7 separate regions of the Homo sapiens genome follow, and all the other regions are linked to region 7. The links come from fine-mapping of genetic effects on gene expression. A gene starts in region 7. Each other region holds a variant in brackets. All regions are shown on one strand. Distances are from middle to middle. Region 1 has its middle 36 kb from the start of OTP-AS1. Region 2 overlaps WDR41 (WD repeat domain 41). Region 3 has its middle 65 kb from the start of WDR41. Region 4 overlaps PDE8B (phosphodiesterase 8B). Region 5 overlaps WDR41 (WD repeat domain 41). Region 6 has its middle 60 kb from the start of WDR41. Region 7 holds the start of WDR41 (WD repeat domain 41).

Evidence for each region. PIP is the estimated chance that this variant, and not a neighbour inherited with it, causes the effect.
Region 1: its variant is fine-mapped to the expression of WDR41 in anterior cingulate cortex (GTEx, PIP 0.96).
Region 2: its variant is fine-mapped to the expression of WDR41 in whole blood (INTERVAL, PIP above 0.99).
Region 3: its variant is fine-mapped to the expression of WDR41 in testis (GTEx, PIP above 0.99).
Region 4: its variant is fine-mapped to the expression of WDR41 in esophagus mucosa (GTEx, PIP above 0.99). The same link has a PIP of 0.9 or more in fibroblasts, lung, nasal epithelium, pancreas, stomach and sun-exposed skin.
Region 5: its variant is fine-mapped to the expression of WDR41 in whole blood (TOPMed, PIP 0.99).
Region 6: its variant is fine-mapped to the expression of WDR41 in whole blood (INTERVAL, PIP above 0.99). The same link has a PIP of 0.9 or more in anterior cingulate cortex, fibroblasts, lymphoblastoid cells, tibial nerve and vagina.

Annotation. Positions count from the first base shown.
Region 1 is chr5:77,592,123-77,596,122 of GRCh38, reverse strand. It overlaps a transcript of WDR41 not described here. Among named protein-coding and RNA genes, the nearest start is that of OTP-AS1, 36 kb to the left of the region's middle. The variant T/C (reference allele first, on the strand shown) is at 1,785.
Region 2 is chr5:77,461,052-77,465,051 of GRCh38, reverse strand. It overlaps WDR41 (WD repeat domain 41), which reads left to right. Exons shown (of 13, transcript NM_018268.4): 3 at 243-291; 4 at 1,826-1,957. Among named protein-coding and RNA genes, the nearest start is that of WDR41, 29 kb to the left of the region's middle. The variant T/C (reference allele first, on the strand shown) is at 2,327.
Region 3 is chr5:77,555,637-77,559,636 of GRCh38, reverse strand. It overlaps a transcript of WDR41 not described here. Among named protein-coding and RNA genes, the nearest start is that of WDR41, 65 kb to the right of the region's middle. The variant T/C (reference allele first, on the strand shown) is at 2,293.
Region 4 is chr5:77,425,129-77,429,603 of GRCh38, reverse strand. PDE8B (phosphodiesterase 8B) reads right to left here. Exons shown (of 22, transcript NM_003719.5): 21 at 3,708-3,837; 22 at 1,348-3,159. The coding sequence ends at 3,050. Among named protein-coding and RNA genes, the nearest start is that of WDR41, 65 kb to the left of the region's middle. The variant T/C (reference allele first, on the strand shown) is at 2,613.
Region 5 is chr5:77,449,142-77,453,141 of GRCh38, reverse strand. WDR41 (WD repeat domain 41) reads left to right here. Exons shown (of 13, transcript NM_018268.4): 7 at 1,789-1,851; 8 at 3,272-3,382. Among named protein-coding and RNA genes, the nearest start is that of WDR41, 41 kb to the left of the region's middle. The variant C/T (reference allele first, on the strand shown) is at 2,472.
Region 6 is chr5:77,549,988-77,553,987 of GRCh38, reverse strand. It overlaps a transcript of WDR41 not described here. Among named protein-coding and RNA genes, the nearest start is that of WDR41, 60 kb to the right of the region's middle. The variant T/G (reference allele first, on the strand shown) is at 2,314.
Region 7 is chr5:77,489,942-77,493,941 of GRCh38, reverse strand. It overlaps WDR41 (WD repeat domain 41), which reads left to right and starts at 1,626. Exons shown (of 13, transcript NM_018268.4): 1 at 1,626-1,772. The coding sequence starts at 1,722. RefSeq lists silencers at 1,321-1,460, 1,901-2,120 and an enhancer at 1,241-2,164.

The DNA.
Region 1 (4,000 bases), 100 kb before region 7:
TGTAAAGACAGGCAAAATTAAGGATGGTCTTACAGTGGTAAAATGGAGTCATTTTGTTTTTTATGAGACTGAATGATGGAATTTGACCAATAGGTTATGGCATTAAGCCCACAGCCAGTACTTAGAAAACAACAGAGGTAATAGTTAAGAAACGTCTGGATTCCCAAATTTCATAAAATAGCATCATATTGCTCAGGACCACTGGCATTTAAAGAAAAAAATAAACATTCCACAAAATTGTCTATTTTCTAGTTAAACTGATGTTCCATAACTGTATCTGAAAAGCTAAGTTGTAATTTTGAGGACGCCACGGATGAAAGAGAAAAAAAAATTACTACCACTAGTAACAGATGTGAAATTACATTAGATAAATATAATCATTAGTTTCAGTCTCACCCTGGTTAATTTGTTTGTGGAAATGTGCAACCCATTATTCATTAGATAATTTTGCACACATTGATTAGAAAGCCATGTCGAATTGTGACCCTGCACATTTGGGCTTACCTATCTTGCAATGAAGTATAACCACTTACAATAGTGGAAATGCGGGACAAAATGTTTATCTCAAGCTGATTTTGTGCCAATAAACAAAGTAAATCAATAGCCAGTGAAGTGTGAACAACATTTCTCTGCTGTATAATGTGGTTTTGGGGGCAATTTGACATGCTACAAGGGGAAACAAGGGTCTTGAACAGAAGGGTAATAAAAGCAAATCATGCTGGTAACTGTTACTGGAGTCCTGCATTTTTCTATACTTGGGCAGCTTTAAGACGTGAAAAATAACGTACATAAAATTATAAAAATATTGAGGCAACTCTCCCCCATATTCATAAACATTCTTATAGTTGAACTTGATCTTATTGGTCACGCACTCTATACCTGTGACAAATCTTTTCTATTTTCTGTTTGATCTAATTTAGTACACAGATTCAAATACCTTTAAAGACTTTATAGCAAATGAAGCACGAAGAAGACCTTAAATTTCAAATCGATTTTGTTAGCAGTCAGTAAGATCTCATCTGAATTTTACTTTTCAATATTCAGATAGCTACTTACAGTAATCAGAAGGCTCTCAAATTAAAAAATGTTTTCTCTCCTCTGTAAAAAGCTTTGGGGATAAACCCTCGTTTCCTCATCTTTCACCTTTCTTACTATTTCAGACCCTGCAGAACCACAGACGTCTTCTTTATCCAAGCCCATGAATCTATTTTCTAATGCTCTGAAGGAGAATAGTGATATAAATGCATTTATAAAGTGTATCTTCTTGTCAGTTGGAACCTCAGATGTTGTCTTTTAAATTAAGATGAAAGTAACACATTTTTCCGCATAATGCAGGCTGCATTCAAATAATTAATGGTTAATTAAAAACAGCTTTTTTTCCCCTGTAGCTCAGACAGTGAAGGGCTCTGTTACGTTACCATAGAAAGGAGAAGGTTGGGCTGTTTGGTTTCTAGAAGTAGACTTCTAGCCTGTTGATCTAAAATCATAGCCAGGGAAACCTGCAGATTCAAAGAAGAAATGGTTACTGGTGTCATAGAAACAGTATTTTGCTGCCCAAGCATGTTATTTCCTTGATAAATTCTGTATACCATTGTTAGAAATTTTAAAAATCATGGATCACAGACATTTTTATAATGTATGCCAAGATGTATTTAATTATTTATTTTCTTTTTTTATTTCTTTTTTATTTTTTATATATACATTTTTTATTATACTCTAAGTTCTAGGGTACATGTGCACAATGTGCAGGTTTGTTACATATGTATACATGTGCTATGTTGGTG[T/C]GCTGCACCCATTAACTCGTCATTTACATTAGGTATATCTCCTAATGCTATCCCTCCCCCCTCCCCCCACCCCACAACAGGCCCCGGTGTGTGATGTTCCCCTTCCTGTGTCCAAGTGTTCTCATTGTTCAATTCCCACCTGTGAGTGAGAACATGCGGTGTTTGGTTTTTTGTCCTTGCGATAGTTTGCTGAGAATGATGGTTTCCAGCTTCATCCATGTCCCTACAAAGGACATGAACTCATCATTTATTTTCAATGACTTGATTTATGTGAAGACTCCTGAAAATTATATCTATCTATGTATCTATCATCTATCTATCTACGTATCTATCTCTTATTTTGAGGTAGTCCTGCCCCCTTTCTTATTTGGACAGGGCTTCAGTCTACTATAGATTAATTTTAAAAATCTAGATTTAAGAAGATTTAATATAACTTATGAATAAAATAGACTTTCTGTTAGCTCTAATTGTCTGTTTGAATGCCAATTAGCAGGAGTATAAGCACTTATGAAATCTAACATAAAAGAGAGACCATGGGTGAAATAGAATGAGCATTAGACTGAAAATCAGATCTGTATTCTAGGCCTTGCTCCATCACTTAAGTCACGTAATCCTTCTGTTCCTGGTGGGTTAGGTGCATTCTAAGTCTCTTCCAGCTTTAATATTCTATGCCTATAATATTTTTATAAACTAGCACCATATTATACATGGATGAATGAACTTTGTGACTCAGATAATAGTTTATTTTTATAACTGCTTTGTTTACATTTACTATATTATAAACATTTTCTTGTGTTCTTATGTATTATTTTATATTATTTATAATGACTGTATCATATTCCATTATATGGATTTACTGTAATTCATTTAATCATTCTCCTGTTGCTGGACACAATCAAAGCTACCATCATCTGTCTTTTGTAATGCTGCCATAGTTTATTACTTGGTTTCCTCTTTTCCACTCTTGCTGCTTATAGTCTATAATTTCTGTAACCAAATAAATCTCACTCTCTTTCCCTCTCTCTCTCTCTGTCTCTGCCTCTGTCACTCATGGCAATTCAGATACAACATTCCTCTGCTGAAAACTCTCCAAAGGCTCTGATCATCCTTAGAGTAAAATACAAAGTCATTACTTTGTATTGTGTAATCTGGCACCTGCCTACCTCTGGAACCTTATTTCTAATACTCTCTGCCTCACTGCACTCTACCCACTGTTCTCCTGGCTGTTTTTCAACTCTCTGAGCATGTCCCCACCTCAGGGCTTTTGCTCCTGGTGTTTCCTCTGCCTGGGACTCTCTTCTTTCTGATATTCATGTGATTTGTTCTTTCAATTCCTTTAGGTCCCTTACCTGGGAATGTGGGTCATGACAGTTAGTTTATTGCTAGCAATGTGATTTATGGTGAACACCTGTTTTTGTTCACCTGTGGCCCTGGCCATACCACATTAGTTTGACCTCTGAGGTGGAGGGACTGGAAACTGATTAGCTAAGGTCAATCACAAGGGTTCTCCATACCTATGTGACTGACTCTCCAATAAAAACACTGGACAACAAGGCTCAGGTGAGCTTCTCTGTTTTTTCTCATGTTAGCAGTACTTTGCATGCATTGAAAACATCATTGCTGGGAGAATTAAGTGGTGTTATTCCAACTACACTGAAAGAGGAATCCTGGTTTCCTCTTTTCCAAACTGAAAGATTGATCCTGGTTTCTCTTGGACACCTCTGTTGCCCTTTTCTTTTGCTGATTTTAATTTGTATACTTTTGCAGTCATAAACTGTAATGGTGAGTATAACAGCTTTTCCAAGTTCTGAGTTCTTCTAAGGAATCATCAAACCTGAGGGTGGTCTGGAGATCTGCCGACACAAATAATAAGTCCACAGACAGAGAAATTTGAATAATAATAAATTCTTGACTATCTAAAACAAGGCAAGAAAGAAAAATAAGGAACAAAGAACAAATAACACAAGTAGGAAATATAAATTAATATGGGAGATTTAGACCCAGATATTATCATAGTTACACTAAATGTAAGTTGAATAAATAATTGAAAGATAAACTATCAGACTCAATTTAAAAAAATCTAACTATATGCTGCTTATAGTGCCATACCTTAAGTACAGGGACATGAAAGACTGAAAATAAAAGGATAAGGAAAGATATTTCAAGTAAATGTAATACACAAGAAACCTGGTGACAGTAATACCAGATAAAGTAGA
Region 2 (4,000 bases), 29 kb after region 7:
TTATTTTTACATTTCTAGCAGTTTATTCTTTGTAAACTTATAAATGTCTTATTTATCTTTTGATCTTCCATACCTGGTACAGAAGCTGGAATGTGTTTCATAAATATTTTTTAAATTAGCTGAAATAACTTGATCTTCGTTAATATTAGTCAAAATACCACTAATAAGGTTTGATAGTTCTTAATCTTAGTAATTAAATGTCACCAGTGATTTTTTTTTCTTGACCCTTTCTCCCTAACCAGATTTGCATCTGCTGGTGATGATGGAATTGTAGTTGTGTGGAATGCCCAGGTGTGTATTGATTATGTGTGGATTGTGTGATAAAGATATGATGATGTAGTTGAGTATGTATTCATATAAATACTATCTGGGGATACATTTACATATCACTGTTAATTGACACATTAATATTTGAAAAGAGCTAATTAGGATAAATCCATATACAGTGGGGACCAGTATTTCATAATGAAGAGGGAAAGTTTTTTTAAATTGAGATTTTTTTTCCAGCTGGGTGTGGTGGCTCGTGCCTGTAATCCCAGGACTTTGGGAGGCCAAGGCGAACGGATAACTTGGGGCCAGGAGTTTGAGAACAGCTTGGCCAACATAGCAAGACCCCGTCTCTACTAAAAATACTAGAAATCAGCTGGGCATAGTGGCACATGCCTGTAATCCCAGTTACTCGGGAGACTGAGGTTGCAGTGAGCCGAGAACATGCCACTGCACTCCAGCCTGGGTGACACAGCAAGACTGTCTCAAAAAAAAAAAAAAAAAAAAAAAGTTTTTTCCTAAGAAACAAATGCCAAAGTATGAAAATTCAAAAAATACAAAATTTTAATCTTATTTAACAAAATTTAGGTTATCACTAGCTATGCCCTGACTTCCAAAATGAATAAATGAATTGTGTTGATTTTTGTGAGACACACAAGTTTTCTTTCAACATTGCGTAATAGCATAATGTAACATTTTTCTCATGTTTGACTTAATATTACAAAAGCCTTTTTTTTTTAAATAAATACTTAAGGCTTCACCAGTTTCTTCAGAGCCTCCCTTCCTGATCATTTGTTACTCAAATTATTCTTTTTTGAAGTATCTTCCTCTCACCTTAATTTTGGATTGTTATCTAGTCTGACTGTGTCAGATCTTTATTTTTCAATGGCTTTGCCTGTGATAAAATCAGTTCTTTAACATTATTTTCACCACATTCACGAAGTCCTGCAATCTTGGAAAGATTTGCCATTTACATTGTATTTTTGCATGTTTACTACTTGGTAAATTAGTCAGAGACTGATGGATGAAGACACTGGATGGGTAGGAATAGATGTTGGTGTTAAATAACGATGGAGTGGAGACTGACTTTCTAAGTGGTTAATAAATGAGTGGATATATATACTTATTTGTGTGTAGGTACATATACAGTTGTTATGGTGACTTTTATTTTCTTCTATGACCTTATAACTGTGGAGACTTAAATAACAAATACTTGGACAATGAGGACTCCATATTTTTTTCCTGCAAACTAAGTTACTGATGTTTTTATGCTTAATTTACACAATTATATTTTTAAATTTATAGAAAAAAATACTCAAAATTTTCTATAAAAATATACTAAAAATTAGCATTTTGTTTTAGAAAATAAAACTATAGTTATGGCTGTACTTTCAGTGCTTGTTTAGATTCTGTGTGATTGCTTAAGTTAAATTCTGAATAAGTAATTTTAAATGGAATGTATATGTATCTTCTATATGGTAGTTGTACTTAATGTAGTCATTTATGATTATCTAAATTGTGAAAGCTAAGCCTATTAACATTTTTATTGGTATTTCAGACAGGGGAAAAACTTTTAGAACTGAATGGACACACTCAAAAGATAACAGCTATTATTACATTTCCTTCCTTGGAATCTTGTGAAGAGAAAAATCAACTCATCTTGACAGCCTCTGCTGATAGAACAGTTATTGTATCCTTTAATCTGGAAGAAATGAACAAGCTGTAGTGGCCTAAGGAGCCACTACATACACTATTAGTCTTTAGCTGATAGGGTCTTGTCTGTATATTCTTGTTATAGCAAAAATGATTTTTGTTCTGTTACTTATAAGATACCATTTATTAGGTATCTGAAAAGTATTAGACTGGAAATAGGAGGTTAAGGCTTGTTATTGATGGAAACTCCGTGACTATTGCTGTTCTTTCCAGAGTTACTCTATCAGGTTGTATAAAATTGATGAAATGGGAAAATGTGGACTTAAAAATAATTTATTTTACTATCTCAGTTTGCTTTTCAATTTAGGGAAACAACGATGAGTTGGACTGGAGAATAATTTACATT[T/C]TTTTTCCCCACTATACAGCAGAAGAAACCAAATGGTCCCAACCCATAAAAATCTTTGGAGCATCTGAGTCTGATAGAAAAGTGAATTACTGTTTGTTCAGTGTGTAATATTTAATAATTAAAAACAATTTTATAAAAGTAAAATTACTTTTTCTTTACCCATACTTTTAGGTAAAAAGTTAAGATGGGATAGCAGTAGTAAAGTGCTTATGTGTAACAGGCATTGTTCTAATTGTTTTACATATATTAACTCATTTAATCTTTAAAATTAGCCCTTTGACATAGGTATTTTTAATTCTTTTTTTTTTTTTTTTTTGAGACGGAGTTTCACTCTTATTGCCCAGGCTGGAGTGCAATGGCGTGATCTTTACTCACTGCAACCTCTGCCTCCTGGGTTCAAGCGATTCTCCTGCTTCAGACTCCCGAGTAGCTGGGATTACAGGCCTGTGCCACCACGCCCAGCTAATTTTGTATTTTTAGTAGAGATGGGGTTTCACTCTGTTGGTCAGGCTGGTCTCGAACTCCTGACCTTAGGTGATCCACCCACCCTGGCCTCCCACAATGCTGGGATTATAGGCATGAGCCACTGCGCCCGGCCTTATTTTTAATTATTCTTATTTACAGATGAAAAAAATAGAGTCACACAGAGGCTAAGTAACTTTCCCAAGGCACACAGCCAGTGTAGGGCAGAACTGGCAAGTCTGACTGCAGAGTCAGAGCCCCGAACCACTGCACTTCATAAAATGTTTTCTGTAAACAAACTCAGCCCTTTAATATCTGTATGAGGAATTGGCTTGGTGAAGTCCAGAGTCAAGTGCTATGGATAACTGTTGTCTTTCATTACTTTTATTTTTTTAAAAGAGGTTGTCAGATTAATTTTTTTTTTTTTTTAGACAGAATCTCACTGTTGCCCAAGCTGGAGTGCAGTAGCACAATCTCGGCTCACTGCAGCCTCCACCTCCCAGGTTCAAGTGATTCTTCTGCCTCAGCCACCCAAGTAGCTGGGACTACAGGCGCCTGCCACCACGTCCGGCTAATTTTTTTGTATTTTTAGTAGAGACGGGGTTTCACCATATTGGCCAGGCTGGCCTCGAACTCCTGACTTCGTGATCTGCCCGCCTTGGCATCCCAAAGTGCTGGGATTACTGGCATGAGCCACTGTTTCCGGTCATATTAATTTTTAAAAGTATATGCTTATCTGAAAGTTCTGTGTAAACACTTTCAAGCATTGGTGAAGTTTTGGAGTAAGCCCAAAAGTATAGGTGTTTCTTAGGCTCTTACAGAACCAAGATACAGACTTGAACATGCTTTAAATGAGTTCATCAACTGAAGTGCTTTCTAGACAGATTGTTCATAGCTGAAAAAATGTCAAGAAAAGGTTTAAATGGGGATAAACTCTCTATACATACATACATATATACATACACACATATATGTATGTTTGTGTGTGATTATGATACAATGTAAACAAGGGCATAAAATTCTCTCAGATGGTTAGGTCAGAGTTGCTTTATTACTACTCTGTAGAGGCAAATATGGGATAAAGCTCTCTTTTTCAGTATCAGTGTAATCTTTGCAAAAATAGAATTTAAAATACTCTATTAGACCACTCCTAAGACACTATAGCAATATTTTGAGGCAGTGATTAAAATTACATACAGAAGTTAGTAGCTG
Region 3 (4,000 bases), 66 kb before region 7:
TTATATATAATGCTGACATATAACAAATTATAGATATGTTATGTATACATCAACATTATATTTATATAACAACATTATATAAAAATCATGTCCATATATTGAATTCTGTCATCTACTAATTGTTGTACTGGATTGGGTAGTACATTACCACCAGTACGGTCTAATTAGTGCCTTGCTAAAGCAGCTTCAAGAATTTTGCCAGCCTGTTGTTAAACACAGTAATTATTAACAATCAAATTATATAAACTTGTAATTTAAAATTTATATTAATGTAATAACTGCTCAAAAACATCACTTTCTAATTATGGTGCTGCATTTTAACATCTATACTCTTAAGATTATTTACATCTATCTTTTGTATCTGTGTGGTACATTTCTCCCCAACTCGACATTTAGTGATATCAAATTGGTAGCTTGAAATTGGCCACAGTGGGAGTGTTTACATGACAGAAATTGGCAAATGCTACAAATCAAGTCAAGGCTATTTCCCTCTCTATATAGCTGGTTGTTAACTATTTACCAGCGTACCACTGTCTTTAATACACACAGAGCAACTCAATACATGTGTCTGTTATTTATTCTTGAGCTCTCCTAAAAGAGTAATAACAGCTTTCATAGACCCTTTTACAAGAAGTGAAATGTATATTTGATTCCCTAAGGAATCTTAGCCCACAATTTCTTGTTAAGCTTTAAAAATTAAGGTTTTTTTCCCTTAGTGTAATAGATAATTTGGAAAATACAGAAAAAAAATATTTTTTCAATGACTTTATTATTTTGAAAGGATGAAAGTAATCACATATTCATAATTTTCTAAACAATTCATGTCTTGCATATTGGTTTATCAGACAACTTATTGCTGAGTTTAAGAGACTGCCAAACAATGCTAAGATTAGAAAGTGCTGGAAAATTAGTTTGTGGAATGAACTCACTGCAATAACATAAATAGTAGAAACATGTCAAGGACCATGTTTGTTAGAAATAAACTTATTTCTCTATGCAGAAGACTTATTAATCATATCTCAGGATGTTTAATAGCGTAAACAAATGGAAAACTTCAGCTTGTGATCCAAGGTCGTTTTCAAATTGGAAATGACCTCAGCCTGCCCCAAGAGGGCTAATGATGTAAAAATAAGTAGGGCCCAGTCCTCTGGGGAATTCGGTGCAGGTCAGCGAGGCTCTTTTGGTGAATGCGGCAATCTGCTCTGCCTCCATAGGCCTTTGTGTAGCCAGACTCCCTGGGAAAGGTGGGCTGTCTGCTGTTGCCTGGCACATATGTAAGAATATTCTTTTTCAATTTCCTTTTCTATTTTTCTTAGATTTTTACTCATGCACAAGGAAAAGCTCATAAGACACTAAAAATGTCACAATGGTAAATTTTCCTTTCCTAAACAGAAAGAGAATTCAAGAGCAATGATTTTTCTTTATACAAATTGTTTTTTAAAGTTAAATATTAATTTAAAATATATTAACATTTGAAGAATCGCATTTTAACGATTACCTACATACCTACTCCTGTTTTGTTTTTTTTTTTTTTTTTTTTTTAAAAAGAACATTTGAAGTTCCCTATGTGTTCATTTCTTCCCTCCCTACTTAAAGGTAATCATTACACTGACGTGGGGTTTTTATTTGCTTGTTCTTACTCACTGCATTGCCACATTTTTTCTTCTAAACAATATGTTGTTTAATTTTGCATGTTTTTGGCCTTTATATAAAGATAATCATACCGTATACATTCTTTTGTAACTTCATTGCTTCTACTATAAGTCATTACTTTTAACTCTCACCTAATAGTCCATTGTATGAATATGCCACAGTTTATTCATTCTACTGTTGGTAAACATTTGGGCTGTTTTCATTGTTCTCTATTATGAATAGTGTCACTATACTCTGAGTATTACTACACATGTATTTTGGTGTATATGTGCAAGAGTTTCTGTAGGTACGTGCCTAGGAGTGGAATTGCATGCCTTCAAATCCACTAAGCAATTAATGCCAGACTGCTTTTTCAAAGCGACTATACTGATTCCTACTGCCATGAGAAGTGTACAAGTGTTCTAGTGGCTCACGCTAACATTTAATATTGTCAGAATTTTTAATTTTTGCAAGCTTTACAGATGTGAAATGTCATCTTACTGTGAGCATCTTTTATCTTTTTATACTTTTGGTTACTTCTGCCACCTCTTTGTGAAATGCTTGCTCAAGTCTTCTGTCCATTCTCTATTGGATTGTGTGTGTTTCTCTGGTGACTTATAGTAGGTCTTTGTATATTCTGGGTACAATTTTGGGGGCTCA[T/C]TTTTAGGGTGTAACAAATCACTTCTCCCAGAGTGTGGTTTACTTATTTATTCTCTTAATGGTTTTTTGTTTTGTTTTGCTTTTAAACAGAAGTTTTTAACTTTAATATACTAGAGTTAAATTTATCACTTTTTCTTTATGGTTAGTACTTTCTGTGCTATGTCTAGTAAATCTTTCACTACCTTGAGATCATAAAGATATTCTTCAATTTTGTCTTTTAAAAGTTTCATACTTTTGCTTTTAATATAACTCCTAATCCACAAGGAATTTTTTGTTTATGTGTGTAAAAGGGATCTGTAATAAATAATCTAATTCCATTTTTGATGTTTGACTACCAACAGCTTTCAGGCTCCACCCCTCCCCCTTTCCCTCTTGCCCAGCATCTGGCAAAGCTGATTAGAAACCCCAGGTGCCCCCTCCCTTGGTGCCAAGGAGAAGTTCAAATCATCCCTCATACTGGCCCTATCACTGACCACATTAAAAATCAAAGACCCTTTTCTCTCCCTCCCTCAAGCCATTTAGAACTGGCTTGGATGCCTGTCCTGTTCTGACCAGAAAGCCTCATTGTGTGTAATAAACTTTTAAAATACCTTCTTGTTGTAAATGTGGTATCAACAATCTTGATATCTGAACCAGTTTTGGATGGGGGCATTGAGCTCACCTTTCATGGGGCAACCACAAAAATAAGACCCAATTTCACTTTTTTCCCCACATGAATAACCAGCTGTCTTAGTGATATTAAATTTAAAACTCCACAAACAATACAGAAATTAGCTGGGTGTGGTGGCGCGTGCCTGTAATCCCAGCTACTTGGGGGCTACACGTAGGAGAATTGCTTGAACCCAGGAGGCAGAGGTTGCAATGAGCCGACATCATGCCACTGCACTCTGGCCTGCGCAGTAGAGCGAGACTCCACCTCAAAACAAACAAACAGTCAGTCAGTCGGGTGCAACGGCTCACGCCTGTAATCCCAGCGCTTTGGGAGGCCAAGGTGGGTGGATTACTTGAGGTCAGGAGTTCTAGACCAGCCTAGCCAACATGGTGAAACCCCATGTCTACTAAAAATACAAAAATTAGCTGGGCGTGGTGGCATGGGCCTATAATCCCAGCTATTTCGGCAGGCTGAGGCAGGAGAATTGCTTGAACCCGGGAGTCGGAGGTTGCAGCGGGCCGAGATCGCACCACTGCACTTCAGCCTGGCAACAGAGAGAGACTCCATCTCAAAAAAAAAAAAAAAAAAAAAAAAAAAGTCCATCTTTTCCCCACCACCTTTGTCAAAAATCAAACCTGTTTCTGGGTTCTGGGTTCTCTGTTTTCAACTGTTGGTTATTTTTGCTATTTCTGTGCAAATGCCACTGTGTTAATTGCTCCAGCTTTATAAAACACCTGATATCTGGTAAGGCAAGTCTCTTCCTTCTGTTTTTCTTCTTCAGTAGTGTTTAATTCTTGGCTCTTTTCTTTCCATATGAATTTTAGAATCAGCTTGTTAGTTTCCACAAAGAAACCTTGTTAGGATTTTGATTGAAATAGTATTGAATCTTTACATCTTTATGAATTTGTCTTCCAATCCATGAGGATAAGATTTATACTTCATTTATTTAGTCTTTTTATCTCTTTCAATAAAATTTTATAATTTCTTCATAAGGATCTTACCCATTGTTTGTTAGATTCATTTCTAGGCACTTTATATTTTCGGATGCTGTTGTAA
Region 4 (4,475 bases), 65 kb after region 7:
AAAACATTTGAAATACTCTAAGAGTTACCAAAATGTGACACTTACACAAAGTGAGCCCATGCTGGGAAAATGCCCCGATAGACTTGCTCTATGCAGGGTGGCCACAAGCCCTCAATTTGTAGAAAAGGCAGTATCTTTGAAGCACAATGAAGCAGAATGCAATAAAATGAGGTATACTTGTATTCTAATTTTCTGCCATGAAAAACTGTCTAGAGGGCAGTCTCCAACCCTAGGGACTAGATTGCTTTTGTTTTCATGCATGCCCTAAGGTCACAGAGATGGGGGATAACAGTATGATGGGAGATTCTGGTAGGGACTCAAACCTGATGGTGTTCAGTAGTTGCAGGTAGACTGCTGCTAAAAGTTGGACTTTCAATTTAGAATAAAATAATGGGTCAATGTATATTATGTACATTTTCTCCATTTCCTGAGTTTAGCTTTCAACAGTTAAGATACTTGCAACAGCAGAAGTAACACTACATAGTGTTACAGTGTACAAATCCCTTGTCATTTTTATTTTAAAATATATTTATTACCTCAGTCTCTGGCTATATTCACATAGCGCAAGGGCACAAGATCATCCCTTCTGTTTCTCTCTCTAAAGCTGAGTAGGTTCTGAGTGAACTGACAGGCTTGTTTTTTTTTTGCCCAGAATGCTAACCAGTCCTGACATGGAGGGCAAGTAAATTTAAAAATCTTAAATTAGAAATAAAGAATGATCTTAGGAAATTATAGGGTCATTCTGGTCCAGCAGTGTTTTATAACTGGCTTCCTTCTCTTACTAGTCACGGAAATTATTAGAGAGTGTTGCATTTTCCTAATACGGCCCTCCTCAGCACATGACATTTAAGTAAACAACTCTGTGTAAGAGGCAGTTATAATAGTTTATATAATATAAACTATCTGATACACATATCATCTGAAAGCCTGTATTTCTAACAAGTTGACTATGTGGAAGAATAGACTAGTTCGCAGGCCAGAAGATTATACCGTAGATTACACTGGTAAAGAGCAGAAATTGTTGACGCTTTAGTACCTAGCTGTCTTAAAGCATTTTTAAACATTTGCACATTACTAATAAAAAGTTTGAAGTTAACAAGAAATTTGACATAAAACTGAGTAAGCTGTAAATATTTCATATAGAAGATGTCTGACACCTGATAAATGTTACTTACCAAATAGAACTGAAAGTGAGATGATCAGAAAAAGATTGTCCTTGCCTCAAGCAAGCTTCTGAAGCCTAGGCAAGTTAGCTAGGTCCTTAATATGGGATTCTGGCATCCTGATTTTAATGTGCTCTGAAAACAAAGTGTGTGACTCATGAAATAAAGGACACTAAACCCCAAATTTGAAATTATGAAAACTTTAGGCCAAAGAGGTAAAATAAAAACAGCTGTTGGGAGTGAAAAATGGCTGTAGGAATTTAGTTACAAGTACTTCACAAAAACATTTTCATCACATTTACATAATATAGCATTACAATACAAAGCTGGCTGCTGTCCTGACCAAGCAAGTTCTCTTATCATCTAACAAAAATAATTTAGATACATTTCTTTGCATGGAATTGTCATATTTTTCCATTTTTGGTACAAAACATAGAAAAAAACATTGGCACATTATGTAGTGATAAGTCATTTTTTCCCCATGTACAAGTTCCAAGTATTCTGCATTCCAATTTGTATTGGAAAAAAGTAATTACTGATTCAATTAATTCAGTCTCTGTTTGTTTATACCTTTTAAAAATGCAGCATGAAGTACAGAGAAAGAAAAATGAAGTTTGTTTACGGAGTCTAATATTTATAATACATAGGAAGGATCAGCTGGTAAAAGAGAAAGGAAAATCTCGAGTCTGACTTTATGTAGATCACAGGGAGTTGTGAAAAGAGCAGTATAAAAATATGCACTTGTGCTTTAGAAGCTTTTAGCATACAATTAATAGCTTAAAATAGTATTTACTGCCTCCCCATATGCCTATTTTCTGATATATTTACACCACACAATTTTAACATTGTTAAAGCTAATGGCATGATTTCAAATATAGACTGGTTAAAAATATCTGAACCTTGAAACTTCCCCTATCCCCTCCCAAAATATTACGTATAGATGGTGCATGGCACAACATACTGCATGGGCTTACACCCAGAAAATTTGGATTTTAATAAAAATTTTAAACATGTATATAAACTTTTTTTTTTTTTTTTTAAGAAAAGCTTGTCCAAGGGCATTCAAATTTAATGGCTTTTATATAATACTTGGTGTAGTGCCTCGTGGCTGCCTCTGTGAGCCAGAAATAAAGGAAGCTCATGGATTCCCCAAAAATGAAATGCCACTTTTTCCCTCATCATGGATGACTTTGTTAAGATGAACCCCTTTTACAGGAAAGGGGTTACACAGGCTGCTGATACCAGTCTAGAGAGGGCACCCACCAGCCAAGGCTGTGTTCTAACTTAGGTGTCATACCATCGGCCAGAAGAACCATGTAGCCATAGAGGCTGTGAAGCTAACTAGTTTATCTGTAATTTGGTCCTAGTTGTTTCACTTATTTTATGTCGTTTTTTTTTTTTCTTAGATAAATCTGTTCAGATAAGCTCCTTATGAATCCTTCAGATCGA[T/C]GTTCTTGAGGAAAACAGTCAAGCTAAACAGCAATGATGACTTTTATGGTAAAGGATGAGCTGATCACTAGCTAAGCTACTTAGTCACCATCCTGGGAGATGAGCTCACAGGCACCAAGGCTTTGCTTCCTGTGGCCTGCTAGTTACAGTGAACCAGCTCCATGGATTGACAAGGGTACACAGGATGACAGCAGAGCAAAGGAGTTTGCCAAGTATTTGTTCTGTCATTAAGTATTCAAAAGAACATATATTTTTCTTCATGGAACATAACTTTCTAAGAATGAAATTTGGGGACTTGAATGATTCAAGGTCAAATATTAAACATTAGCTCCTTCACCAATACCTGTCATTGTCATTAGAAAGGAAGGCCTCTCGTTTACGCTACTGTGATTCACAGTGTCCTTTGTCGGTCAAGAGGCCCCCTCTGTGGCTTGGCTTTAGCTGTCAGATGGAAGCCTCAAACTTTTGCACTTTAGGTCATCTAGTGTCTTCCAGTGTTTGTAGTTGTCAGCCAAATGTTGCATCAGGGCTGGCAGATGTGCAAAGGCTGCAAAGACAGAAAAGAATCAAAAGAAACCGGTGAACTTAGACCCCAGGAGCATTTATAAGCCTGGGGGTGTCTGGGACAAGTTTGGGATCAGAATTAGAGGAGGCACACCCTGGGCGAAGCATGAGGACAAGTCATTAAACACTAGTTTCTGAAATGCAAACAGGTCCTTTTTGAAAAGCTGCTTATCAGTGACATTATCAGAAGAACCTGTGATTCAGAGTAAACTAAATACATTTTGCATTCTTTCTAGAGTTTTCCTCCAACGACAGAAAAACACTGCAGTAAGCTTTGGCAGCGTGTCCTTTGAAGAGGCAGAGACTCGTTTATCCAGCTATCAAAAATCCATCAAGTCTTCTGCACACAAGCTTCTGTGCCAGCTGCTGGGGATGCAAAGAATGCACCCCACCCCACTTGGCCACAAAAAGCTGACAGCCACATTTTTAAAAATATATTTTGTTTACCTTTAGGCTCACCCTGTGTCACTAAAGATAATATTCGTAAAGTATAACAATTTTCTTTGGGTGACAAAACAGTAACTGTCTTACCATCCCAAGCATCAAACATGTCTGTTATGAAGTAGTCAATGAAAGAGATCTGAGACTTGGGGATGCTACAGGTATTCCGGTCAAACACTGGCATCACCACAGGTAGTCCCTGTCTCTTCTCTTCATCAGTCTGTAAGAAAAAACCACCACATAGGGCTGGAGGACATGCGAGACACTTTCACAGTAATATCCTGTTTCTCAGAACAACCCTGTGAAAATGGGTCATTATCCAGTTTTCTCAATGAAGAAATAGGCTCAGCAAGGTCCTCAGACTTACGTAAGTCAGCTGAGCTACACTGACTACACTCAGACCTTCCCACTCTCAAGCCTCTTTTTTTGTTTTTGAGACAGTGTCTCACTCTGTTGCCCAAGCTGTAGTACAGTGGTGCAGTCTCGGTTCACTGCAACCTCCGCCTCCCAGGTTCAAGCAATTCTTCTGCCTCAGCCTCCTGAGTAGCTGGGAATACAGGCACCTGTCACCACGTCCAGCTAATTTTTAGTAGAGAAGGGGTTTCACCATATTGGCCAAGCCAGTCTTGAACTCCTGACCTCAGATGATCTGCCTCCCTTGGCCTCCCAAAGTGCTGGGATTATAGGCACGAGCCACTGTGCCTGGCCCCAAGCCTCTTTCTATGTGATACCATAGCATCTCCTGACACATTGATCTCAGGGTACTTAGCCCCTTTTCTGGGATCTGCTTTTATCATTGCAAAGTCAAAGCTCTGTTCAATGTCATACAAACACAAATTCTCATACCAAAACTACTGA
Region 5 (4,000 bases), 41 kb after region 7:
AATTTAGTTACTAATAGGAGCTAGCTTAGCTCCACGTAGATATTTTAAAGTATCAGAAACATAATGACTTAGGAAAACTAAATCCATACATTGCTAGGGTTTACAATTTAACCACTCAGTTCAACATTTGATTACTAATAGTCTTGCTCAAATCTAGAATATATTTCCCTGTTTACTATTATCATGAATTATGTGTCTTTATGTTCATTTTTCTCTCTCTTTCACTAGCCTGTGGTTTTCATGAATTTTATTTTGGTAAAGTTATATTGTAAAATGTTGAAATTGGGGCTGAAAAGAATCTTCTGTGTGTTCCTGGAAATAGCCACCTCTTATTGCAGTCTCCCTTTGTTTTGCAAGTTATGTTTAAGTACTATATATTAAATCATTACAATACTGCCATTTATCAGTGTCTCAAGAGTTAACAGAAGGCTTTGAGGGTATCTATGGGAAAGCCTTGAGAAGGCCATGGGTTACTATTGGTGAGCTGTTCATCATTTGGGTTTTCCAAATTACTGGAGGCCAGATTGTTAATAGTGTTATTAGATCCTTATGTCATGATGTCCTTTCATAAGCCCTGCTTGATTTATGGACTGGTGGAGCTTTTACAAGCAGTTATTCTGTGTTTGGAAATAAGCAAAGACAATCTTAGTCAATGTGATACAATGGAAGGAGCCCTGGACTAAAACACAGGGCATCCGTGTCCTTTCCAGTAATATGTTTTGTGATTCTGAGTATTAGGTTGCTACATCTGGATTGTTGGGCTTCTAGTATTTTCACATATAATTTAGTGAAAGATTTTTAAACAAGCTGTTTTCTGCATTTAGAATTCTTCTCTTGCTATCCACCCTGCTGTTCTCCCATGTCCTCTGCCTTCTCTGTACCATTCCTTTGCCTTCCTTGCAGCACCATTTCCTCCTTCTTGTACATGGGAAAATACAAAACCTACTGTTAAAATATGCCTATGTGGAGAAAAATCTTGGCCAGAAATACTATCCAAATCACAACAGTCAGTCCTTTGATGGATGGGAAGGATAAGCAAATGACTAGACCGTTTTCTACACTTGCATATATATTATAAATTACATATATATCATAATGGAAAAATTAAACAGGTTTTTTTTTTTGCCAACACGTGGTGGTTCTAATTTATCAACTCTTTTATTCATACTGACAGAAGCAAAATTGTAACATGCCTTGTAGAAGTTATAGTTACGCTAAAATCATTAACCTCTTTACTTAAATAAGTGAAGTGTGTTAGAATGTTGAATCTGATTCTTTCATTAATAGAAGAAAAATTTTACATGTATTAGTGGATCACAAACATGCTATTTGAAGGCTGCTTTCTTAGCTGCTGACTGTTGGCTAGTTCATTCAATGCCAGGGAGCCTGCTCAGGCTTCTAAAGTTTACATGAAGGAAAACCCCAATTTTACATCACTTTTGAGCTAGCCATCTTGTAAATGGGTGATGGTGATTATCTTAAGGGATCCCTGGTAAATAAGTGTGAATTGCTGAATCTACCACTTTATCACAATAGTAAAAAAAAGTACAAAAAAACCCAACCCCATATTCTGCTCTTAATAAATCAATAATGTCTTCCAAAAGTCTCAGAAACCTACATTTAACAATCATTTTCCATTAGTAAGCAAGCAAGGAAGTGTGTGTGGAGCTAGTTCTGTGTGCTTTATCTTCTTTATGGAAAACGACTGACATAAAACTGAGAATGTTTTTGTTTTTGATATAATCTGTGAGAAAAATAATTTGAACTTTGTTTTATATGTTTTTGGAGGTATTAGTGCTTTGGTTGAAATACCTAAGAACTGTGTTGTGGCAGCAGTTGGCAAAGAACTGAGTGAGTATGAATTTTTTTCTTTTTGTGTATTTTGAACGAGAATTGTATACACATGCTGGAAGGACTAAAGTAATTTTTTATTTAAGGGACATTGCGTGTGCCCCACTCTTGGCTTCTTGGGATTGTTGAAGTGATACAGAGACTAAGACATTTTCAGGATGTTAGGCCAGGTTTCTTTTTCTTATCAGTGTTTTAATCAGTATGTTAGCTTGGTTAAACAGTTTATTGCTTGTTATTCCAAAATTCCAGTCTCAAGATCACTTCATAATATTCCAACTAAAGTAGAATTTCCCATAAGTTCAATGTGTATCAGAAAGAGTTCTCTTTTCTATTGACTGAAAAACCTTCTTTTGACAACCACAGTTTGAATATGAGTAGCTGTCAGGATTAAATAACCTGGATAGAGATTTGTAGTTTGGTAAAATATTGTCAGAGACACAGAAAGAAGCATGGCATGACCTATCTTCTAGAGAGAAATGTGAGAAAGAAAAGATACTTTCGTAATTTGAAAAGGACATGATCTCAGAGACTTGTCACTTCTCAGATGTTAGTGATGCTAATCTTTGAGCATCCACAGCACCTGGTCCAGTGGTGTATTTTTAAAACACTCAGTACATTGA[C/T]GGTAAGCCTGTTTATAAACAAGTCTCTCTCCCACTCTAGACTGAGCATTTGTGACTGGGCCTTATTCACATTTGGTACGTAGAGTTCCTGGAACATAAATGTTTAGTAAATGATGATAGAATCACGTCTGTGGATTTTATTATGGGTTTTCTGTATTGATTAAAGTTAGGATTTATACTAGTTTAAATAAAACTGTATTTGTTAAAGTCAGATAATGAGTAAAGCAACACATTGAACATTACTATAGTCAGAAGAACTGTATGATATATAAACATTATAAGACATACTCAGAGAATTTATAATTTAATGGTATATGCCTAGGAATCAGAAGCTTTTTAAAAAAGAAGTTGCTTATGTCTTCACTGAGTTGAAGTTAAACTTGGATTTGCAGCTTATTCTGTCGCAATGCTTACATGAGTAAGAGACATGAGTAGAGAAAGCTGATGTTGGAGGTGATTGAGGGATGTGGGCTAGTCACTGATTAGGGAGGGAGTGAGTTGAGATAACAAGACATCCGTTGAAACCCTAGAGAGAATGGGAGCTTCACTGTTTGGAAAAGTCAGTAAAGGAAGAGAGTTCTTCAGGACACATTCAGTATGGGTTTTAGTAGATCATCTCAAACATCTCAAGCATTTGAAAGAAATAGTTTAAAGTAGTATGAATAAGGCTTTTTTTTGGAGATGGGTTTTTCAGTATGGTAGGTATTTTTCACTTAATGAAATGCTTGTTTTTAGAGCAGGAGTAGTATTTTATCCTCTTAGAGCATTGTAATAAAATTTTATCTGTCTTTTTCATTTAGTAATTTTCAGGTTGGTAGCACCCACAGAAGGATCACTAGAATGGGATATTCTTGAAGTTAAGCGCCTCCTTGATCACCAGGATAATATTCTCTCATTGATTAATGTCAATGGTAAGCTCATTGTGTACATTTATTATGTACAGTTTTGTGCTTGTTAACACAACCTGCTCTGAACACGAGCCTTGCTTAGTTCTGGGATTCTAGAATAAGTCACTAAAATAATGGGATTGTCATTCTCTTTTACTCTGAAGTTTTAGCCGGTGGAGCTGAGCAAGTTTCCTAGATTGCTAGGTCTAAGATTTAGGGACAAGGAAAATAGTGTAAGGCAGAGAAAATAGAGGAGAACATAATGATCTCAGGCACTGCTTGGTAGCTGTGGGATGACTGTCACAGGCTGTTTCAGCATTTTTGGCAGCTGTTTCTGGCTAGTTCCTCTTTTGTAGAGAGATTGGAAATATGCCCTTTTGTCTTGCTGTCCACACCATACAATATCACATAGCAAGTTACACACTTACACTAGAATGAGCAGGATTCAAGCCAGTTGTAATCCTGGTTGAAGACTCTCAAAGAATAATACCAAACTAAAGTAAAAGTCTGCAGAAAATGGGTCATGTCTTCCCTTCCTTCCTCGTGGTGGGGGTTTTGACCTGCTGTACATCCTATTTGGCTTCCTAAATGATTTTAATGAGTATCTCCTGTGAGCTAAATCTGACATCAGATGGCAAGATC
Region 6 (4,000 bases), 60 kb before region 7:
TTATTTGGGTTTTTATGTTAAAATAACTTTCATTCCTCTGGCATAAATGTCCAGAAGTGCAATTATTGGGTTGTATGGTAGTTGCAAGTTTAACATTTTAAACAACTGTTAAACTCTTTTCCAGAGTGGCTTACCATTTTACATTCCCACCAGTAATGTATGAGTGAACCAGTTTCTCTGCATCCTTGCCAGCATTTGGTGGTGTTATTTTTTAAAATCTTAGTCATGTTGATATGTGTGTAGTGGTATCTCATTGTAGTTTTAATTTAAAGTTTCCTAACAGCTTATGATATTGAATATCTTTTCATGTGCTTATTTTTATCATCTTTGGTAAATGTCTGTTTATGTCTTTTGTTCATTTAATAGATTTTTTTAATGTTGAGTTTTGAGAGTTCTTTACATATTCTAGAATTTAAAATGTGTAAGTTCTTTGCTAGATATTTGGTGCTATGATTTGAAAGATGGCATTCCCTCCAAAATTCATGTGTTGAAACTTAATCCCCATTATGATGGTATTGAGAGGTGGGGTCTTTTGGGGAAGTGATTAAATCAGGGGGATTCTGCTCTCATGAATGAATTGGTGCCTAGCTGGAGGGAACTAGCTTAGGCCCTTTTTGCCCTTTACATCCCTTCAGCTATTTGAGAACACAGCATTTGTCCCCTCAAGAGGATGCAGCAACAGGGCTCCATCTTGGTTGAAAGTGGAGATGGGGGCCTCACCAGATACCAAATGCTGGTGATTAAATCTTGGACTTCCCATCCTCCAGAGCTGTGAAAAATAAATGTCTGTTCTTTATAAATTACCCAGTTTGAGGTATTTTGTTATAGCAGCAAAAAAGGACTAAGGCATATGACTTGCAAATATTTTCTCCTGAGTGTGTAGTTTTCCTTTTCATCCTCTTTATATGGCTTTCACAGAACAAACATTTCTAATTTCAGGGAGGTCCAATTCATCAGTTTTTCTTTTTATGGATCATGCAGTTGGTGTCAAGTCTGGCAACTACTGGCTTAGCGCCAGATCCTGACAACTTTCTTCCATGTGTTTTGCTGAAAGTCTTATAGGTTTGTTTTACATTTAAGCCTGTGATCCAATTTAAGCTCATTTTTTATATAAAGCATGAAATTTAGATCTAGGGTTTTTTTCCCCATATGGATATGCAATTGTTCCAGCATCATTTGTTGAAAAGGTTATTCCTCCTCCTTTAAATTGGTTTTGCACCTTTGTCAAGTCAGTGTGGCAGACTGTGTGAATCTATTTCTGGGTATCCTGTGCTGCTCCGTTGATTCATGTGTCTACCCCTCTGCCCACACCACACTCTCTTGATTACAGTAATTATATAGCCAGGCTTAATATGGGTAGAGTAGTTTCTCCCATTTCTTTGTCTTTCTTCTCTATCAAGATTGCTCTAGCTATTCAGGGCCTGTGCCTTTTCATATATATTTTAGCATAAGCTTGCCTCGGTCTATGAAAAAAATATTGCTGGGATTTTGATAGGAGTTACACTAAACTATAGACCAATTTGGGGAGAATTGACAGCATTACTAAACTGAGTCTTCCAGTTCATAAACATGATATATCTCTTCATTTATTTAAGTCTTCTTTGACTTTCACAAAATCAGCATTTTGTAATTTGTAGCATATAGATCTTGCACATGTTAAGTAAATGCATAAGTATTTCATTTTCCTTGGAGTTATTGTAAATTGCCCTGTGTTTTTAATGTCAGCTTCCGCATGTTCACTGTTACTATAATTGATTTTTATGTGTCTTTATATTTATTTAAATTACTAATATATTTAGATTTATTTTGACAATTTTATTTAGTGGTTTGTATTTGCCCTACCTTTTCTATGGTCTTTCTTGTCCTCCCCTGCATCAATTGCATTTTTTTTCTCATTCAATTTTTCCCCTACTAGTTAGGAGATTTTATTTTATTTTATTTTATTTTATTTTATTTTATTTTATTTTATTTTATTTTATTTTATTTTATTTTATTTTATTTTATTTTTTGAGACAGAGTCTTGCTCTGTTGCCCAGGCTGGAGTGCAGTGGCACGATCTCGGCTCGCTGCAACCTCCGCCTCCCTAGTTCAAGCGATTCTCATGCCTCTAGCCTCCCAAGTAGCTGGGATTACAGGCTCGTGCCACCACACCCAGTTAGTTTTTGTATTTTTAGTAGAGAAGGGGTTTCACCATGTTGGCCAGGCTGGTCTCAAACTCCTGACCTCAGGTGATCCACCCACCTCGGCCTCCCAAAGTGCTGGTACTACAGTCAACAGCCACCTCGCCCAGGCTTTATTTTTTTATTTTTTGAG[T/G]CAGAGTCTCACTCTGTCACCCAGGCTGGAGTGCAGTGGTGCAATCTCAGCTCACTTCAGCCTCTACCTCCTGGGTTCAAGCAATTCTCATTCCTCAGCCTCCCAAGTAGCTGGGATTACAGGTGAGCACCACCACACCAGGCTAATTCTTGTGTTTTTAGTAGCGACAGGGTTTCGCTATGTTGGCCGGGCTGGCCTCAAACTCCTGACCTCAGGTGATCTTCCTGCCTCAGCCTCCCAAAGTGCTGGGATTACAGGCATGAGCCACCACACCCAGCTAGTAAGGAAATTTTATGCTATATTATTTTTACTTTGTTAGTCATTCTAAAATTAGCTTTTGAATATCATTTATCAAAATCTAACATGAATTAATATTTTTGCCCCCTTCTTAAACATACAAAATCCTTAGGACATTTTATTTTATTTTATTCTTTCTTTCTGAAATTTTATTTTATAATTTCAGATTTTATTTTCAATTCACAGGGTACTGTGCAGGATTGTTACGTGAGTACATAGCATGATGCTGAGGTTTCGGGTACAAATGATCCTGTCACCCAGGTAGTGAGCCTAGTACTCAATAGCCTAGTACTTTTCAGCCCTTACTCCCCTCTCTCTCTCCTTCCTCTAGGAGGCCCCAGTGTCTATTGTTCCCGTTTTTATGTCATGTTTACCCAATGCTTAGCTCCCACTTATAAGTGAGAACCTGTGGTATTTGGTTTTCTGTTCCTGCATTAATTTGCTTAGGTAAGGACATGACTTTATTCCTTTATATGGCTGCATAGTATTCCATGGTATACATGTACTATATTTTCTTTATGCAGGCCAACATTGATGGGCATCTAGATTGACTCCATGTCTTTGCTATTATGAGTAGTGCTGTGATGAACATATGAGTACATGTGTCTTTTTGGTAGAATGATTTATTTGTCTTTGGTTATAATTCAGTAATGGGATTTCTGGGTCAAATGGCAGTTCTGTTTTCAGTTTTATGTGAAATCTCCAAACTGCATTCCACAGTGATTAAACTAATTCGTACATTCCCACCAACAGTGTATAAGCATTCTCTTTTCTCCACAGGCTTGCCAGCATCTGTTATTTTTGGCTTTTTAACAATAGCCATTTTGACTAGTGTCAGATGGTATCTCATCATGGATTTGATTTGCATTTCTCTGTTGAGCATTTTCCCATTATGTTTGTTGGCCACTTTTTTGTCTTCTTTTGGGAAGTGTCTGTTCATGTCTTTTGCCTATCTTTTAAAGGGAATGTTTGGTTTTTTGCTGGTTGAATTGTTGAAGTTACTTATGGATTCTGGATATTAGACCTTTGTTGGATGAATAGTTTGCAAATATTTTCTCCCATTTTGTAAGTTGTCTATTAAATCTGTTGATCATTTTTTTTGCTGTGCCGAAACTATTTAGTTTAATGAGATCACACTTGTCAATTTTTGTTTATGCTGCAATTACTTTTGAGAATTTAGTCACAAATTCTTTCCCAAGGCCAATGTCCAGAATGGTATTTCCTGGGTTTTCTTTGAGGATTCTTATAGTTTGAGGTCTTAGATTTCAATCTTTAATCCACCTTGAGTTAATTTTTATATATGGTGAAATGTCGAGGTCCTTTTTTTTTCTTCTGGTTATGGCTAGCCAGCTATCTCAGCACCATTTGCTGAATACAGTCCTTTATCCAT
Region 7 (4,000 bases):
AGGAACCAAGGGAGGAAGTGTTCAACCCTGGACCAGTGCTTTAAAGCATCAGCAGAATGTCCCTTACATCAGAGTAATGTGGCATTGGGCAAACCCTAAAGAGCATGGGGCAAACCCTAAAGAATGTGGATAATCAGAAGAATAAAATGTAGGCTATTTGGGCAACCACATTGTCTCACGTGAAGATATTCCTTCCAGAACTGAACTCCTGATGTCTCTGAGTTTTGTTTTACTTAAAGATAAGTCCCTCTTTCCCAGGGGATAGTCTCTGTTTTGGTCTGTCTTCAACTGTATGCAGACTGCAATTTGGGGCTAGCACACAGAAGGCAACATGCTCCTGATCCTTGGGAGTGTGTTCTTGCCGAGTGCACTCAAAAGGAATACAAAGATGAATTATAGGAGATCCGAGTTCCAGAGGGACTGTAAGTTTGTGTAGCTGCTCACAACCAACTTAGCTTAAAGTGGGATGTATGGCTCTCTCTTATTGGTGACTGGGACATTATGCCTTGTCCCTCCAGAGCAGCATTTTATGTGATTCCTTTCTGCTTCTCTAGTGCATCTGTGTCCAATACATGTTTGCTGAATTAATGCATTAGTTGGGACATTTGTAGATTCCCTACAACAATTTACTGCTAGGAGGATTATTTGAACCTAATACATATGCAAATATATATATTTATACTTTTGCAAACATGATATGTATAAGTAGTTCCTAGACCAGTGATTTTCAGACCTTGCTACTCATCAGAATCACCTGAGGAGCCTTCCCAAAACCCCGATTCCTACGTCCCAACCACAAAGATTATTTTAATGAGTCTGAGGTGGAAGCCAGGAATCTACATTTTCAAAAGCTACCCAGGTAATTCTGATATGCAGTCAGCATAGATAACCACAGCCCTTTGACTACCTAAGAAAATGTAGTAGTCAAAAAAAGGTATATGAACTGCCTTCTATTCTTTAGGGAGATTCTATGTTAATATAGCATACGGTCAAGAACACTACCAATGTAGCCACTTCCTAGCTGTTATCTTTAGACAAATTACCTAATCATTCAGAGCTTTAGTTTCTTGATGTGTAAAATAGAGGATATAGGTTTACCATGAGGATTTATGTAAAGCCTTAGCACAGTAGCTGTACTATAGCACACAGTAAATGTTGGCCGGATTTATTCGGCTGTACACATGAGCCACTGGATTTGTCTGGATGCAGAAGTCTACTGCGGTACACCTTCTTCAGCAAGCTCTTGGGAAAGCAGGGGAGATTTCCTGGTACCCTAGGAAGTGGAGGATACTAAAGCCATGTCACAGGGAGGGGCATTATTCTTCGTGCGCGCTTGCTCGCCGGGGTCGGGTTGCTGCTCCGCGCGCGTCCACCAGGGGCCGCTCGAGCTACCTAAGCTCCGTGCGCTACCCGGCGGCGCTCCCGCGCGTGCTCACTCGGAGCAGCGCGCGCCCCGCAATCGCCGCAGCCGCCCCCGCCGTCGGCCGCCGCACCCCAAGCGACTGCCCAAACTAAGCCTCCGTGGCTGGGTACGGGAGCGCTTTGGGGACAAAAATTCTCCCTCAACTGTGGTCTGCATTCCTTCGGCCCGTGGGCTGATCTGGGGCGGGAAGTATTAGCGTCTCAGTTGCGCTGCAGCCGGGGAGGAAGGAGGAGGCCGAGCCTGGGGCGGAGTTTGGGCTGACTGGGGCTGGACCGGGCAAGACGCCGCCGCTGCCCGGATGTTGCGATGGCTGATCGGGGGAGGCCGAGAACCGCAGGGACTGGCCGAGGTAAACCCCGGGTGGGTCTGCTCTGCGTCCGTCGAGCTTGCTGGAGGGGCGGCTTCGTTCCGGTTCGGCCTTCCTGGGTTCCGACCGCGGGGACCCGGGCGGAGGCGGGGCTGGCTGCTGAGCTCGTGCCACGCGCTGTTCTCACGACGGTGGGGGCGGAGGGCGCGGGAGCCGGAGCTCCTCAGACCCGGCGGGACCCCAGGCGCACCCTGGAGCTGCAGACCCCCGGCCCCGTCCCACGGCTAGCTGAATCGTGAGATCCTGGCTCAGGGACGCTCAGCTGGTCAGCAGTCCTATTGGGACCTGTGACAACTTAGGGCTTCTGGCTACCGAAACTATCTTCATTTCCACTTAAAAAGTATACGATTTAGCTAGAAACGAACGAGTTGTGACCGCAGCTTTCCACTTTTGGTTTATTTGAATTGGTGTCTCTTCCTGGCGTCTACTGATACTTGGTCAGGGAATATAAAATTAATTTACTTATCCAACAACCGAAAAAGGATATAATTATTTTTAAAAAGTAATCTGCTTCAAGGTCAAGAACATGATTTTCTAATTAACTGCTGTTTTTGGTTTCATAGTCACACTTTCTTCATGGGCCCGAATAATTGAATAGACCGTGTGTAATGAAATTTACATTTGAAATGTGAATAAAATAATTTTTGCAGTCTTGGAAATTTTGAGGTCCCAAATTTATTTCGTATGCCACACAAGAACTTTCATGCGCGTCCGTGTGAAGAGACCACCAAACAGGCTTTGTGTGAGCAATAAAAGCTTTTAATCACCTGGGTGCAGGCGGGCTGAGTCCGAAAAGAGAGTCAGCGAAGGGAGATAGGGGTGGGGCCGTTTTATAGGATTTGGGTAGGTAAAGGAAAATTACAGTCAAAGGGGAGTTGTTCTCTGGCGGGCAGGAGTGGGGCAAGGTGCTCAGGGGAGCTTTTTGAGCCAGGATGAGCCAGGAAAAGGACTTTTACAAGGTAATGTCATCACTTAAGGCGAGGACCGGCCATTTTCACTTTTGTGGTGGAATGTCATCAGTTAAGGCGGGGCAGGGCATTTTCACTTCTTTTGTGATTCTTCAGTTATTTCAGGCCATCTGGGCGTATATGTGCAAGTCACCGGGGATGCGATGGCTTAGCTTGGGCTCAGAGGCCTGACAAGAACAGAATTTGTGAATTGCATTTTATTTCTCATAAGAAGTATTTGTTTAGATTGTTAAAAGTAAGAAATTGGATTGTTGAGAGTAGGCAGTCTTCTCAATTTTAACTTCCGCATGTCTTTGCAGTTGACGGTATTGTCTGTTTTTAAAAATTTCTTATTTCAGATTAATCCTAAATCCTTGAGATTGTGGATTATTGAATAGCCATATATGGTATATACGACATTTTGGATAATTCTGTTTTAACCTGGTTCTTTGGTTAATCATGTTATTTGCTTAACCAGGTCTCCCATTCCTGGCAAGTTTTCATTGGAGGAGAAGCAGTTTATATAGTTTTCAAATTTCTCACCACAATCTCTTCTAGAAGGAAGACAGAATAAATACAAAATCAATGCTTTGTGGTGGTGGTTTTTTTTTTGGAAAACATTTATGCATGTTTTAAATTTATATATTTCTTCATATAAATCTAATTGAGTTGTATAACTGCTGTGAATTTGTACATTATCGGAACCTATGATTGTCCCTAATTTATGCAATAACTTTGTATCCAGGCTTCTCGTTTAAGCAGTGGTTCTCAACTGGGGTGATTTTTGCCCCGCAGGAGACATTTGGCAATGTCTGGAGACATTTTTGATTGTCATGCCTTGCAGAGGGGCAGTTCTATTGGCATCTAATGTGTATAGACCAGGGATGCTGCTCAATGTCCTGTAATGCACAGGACAGTTCTCAACAACAAAGAATTATCTGGGCTGGGCGCGGTGGCTTACTCCTGTAATCCCAGCACTTTGGGAGGCCGAGGCGGGCGAATCACTTGAGGTCAGGAATTCAAGACCAGTCTCGCCAACGTGGTGAAAACCTGTCTCTACTAAAAATACAAAAATTAGTTGGGCGTGTGGTGCGAAAAAAAAAAATTCTCTAGCCCAAAATGTCAGCATCAAGTTTGAGAAATCCAGAGTTGATTTCATGCCTTCATTTATTCATTTAGCAAGCATGTATTGAGTGCTTGTAATGGATGAGGCACTGTTTCACTATTTTATGTCTTTGATTTGCAGTTTTGTTTCTGCCACAT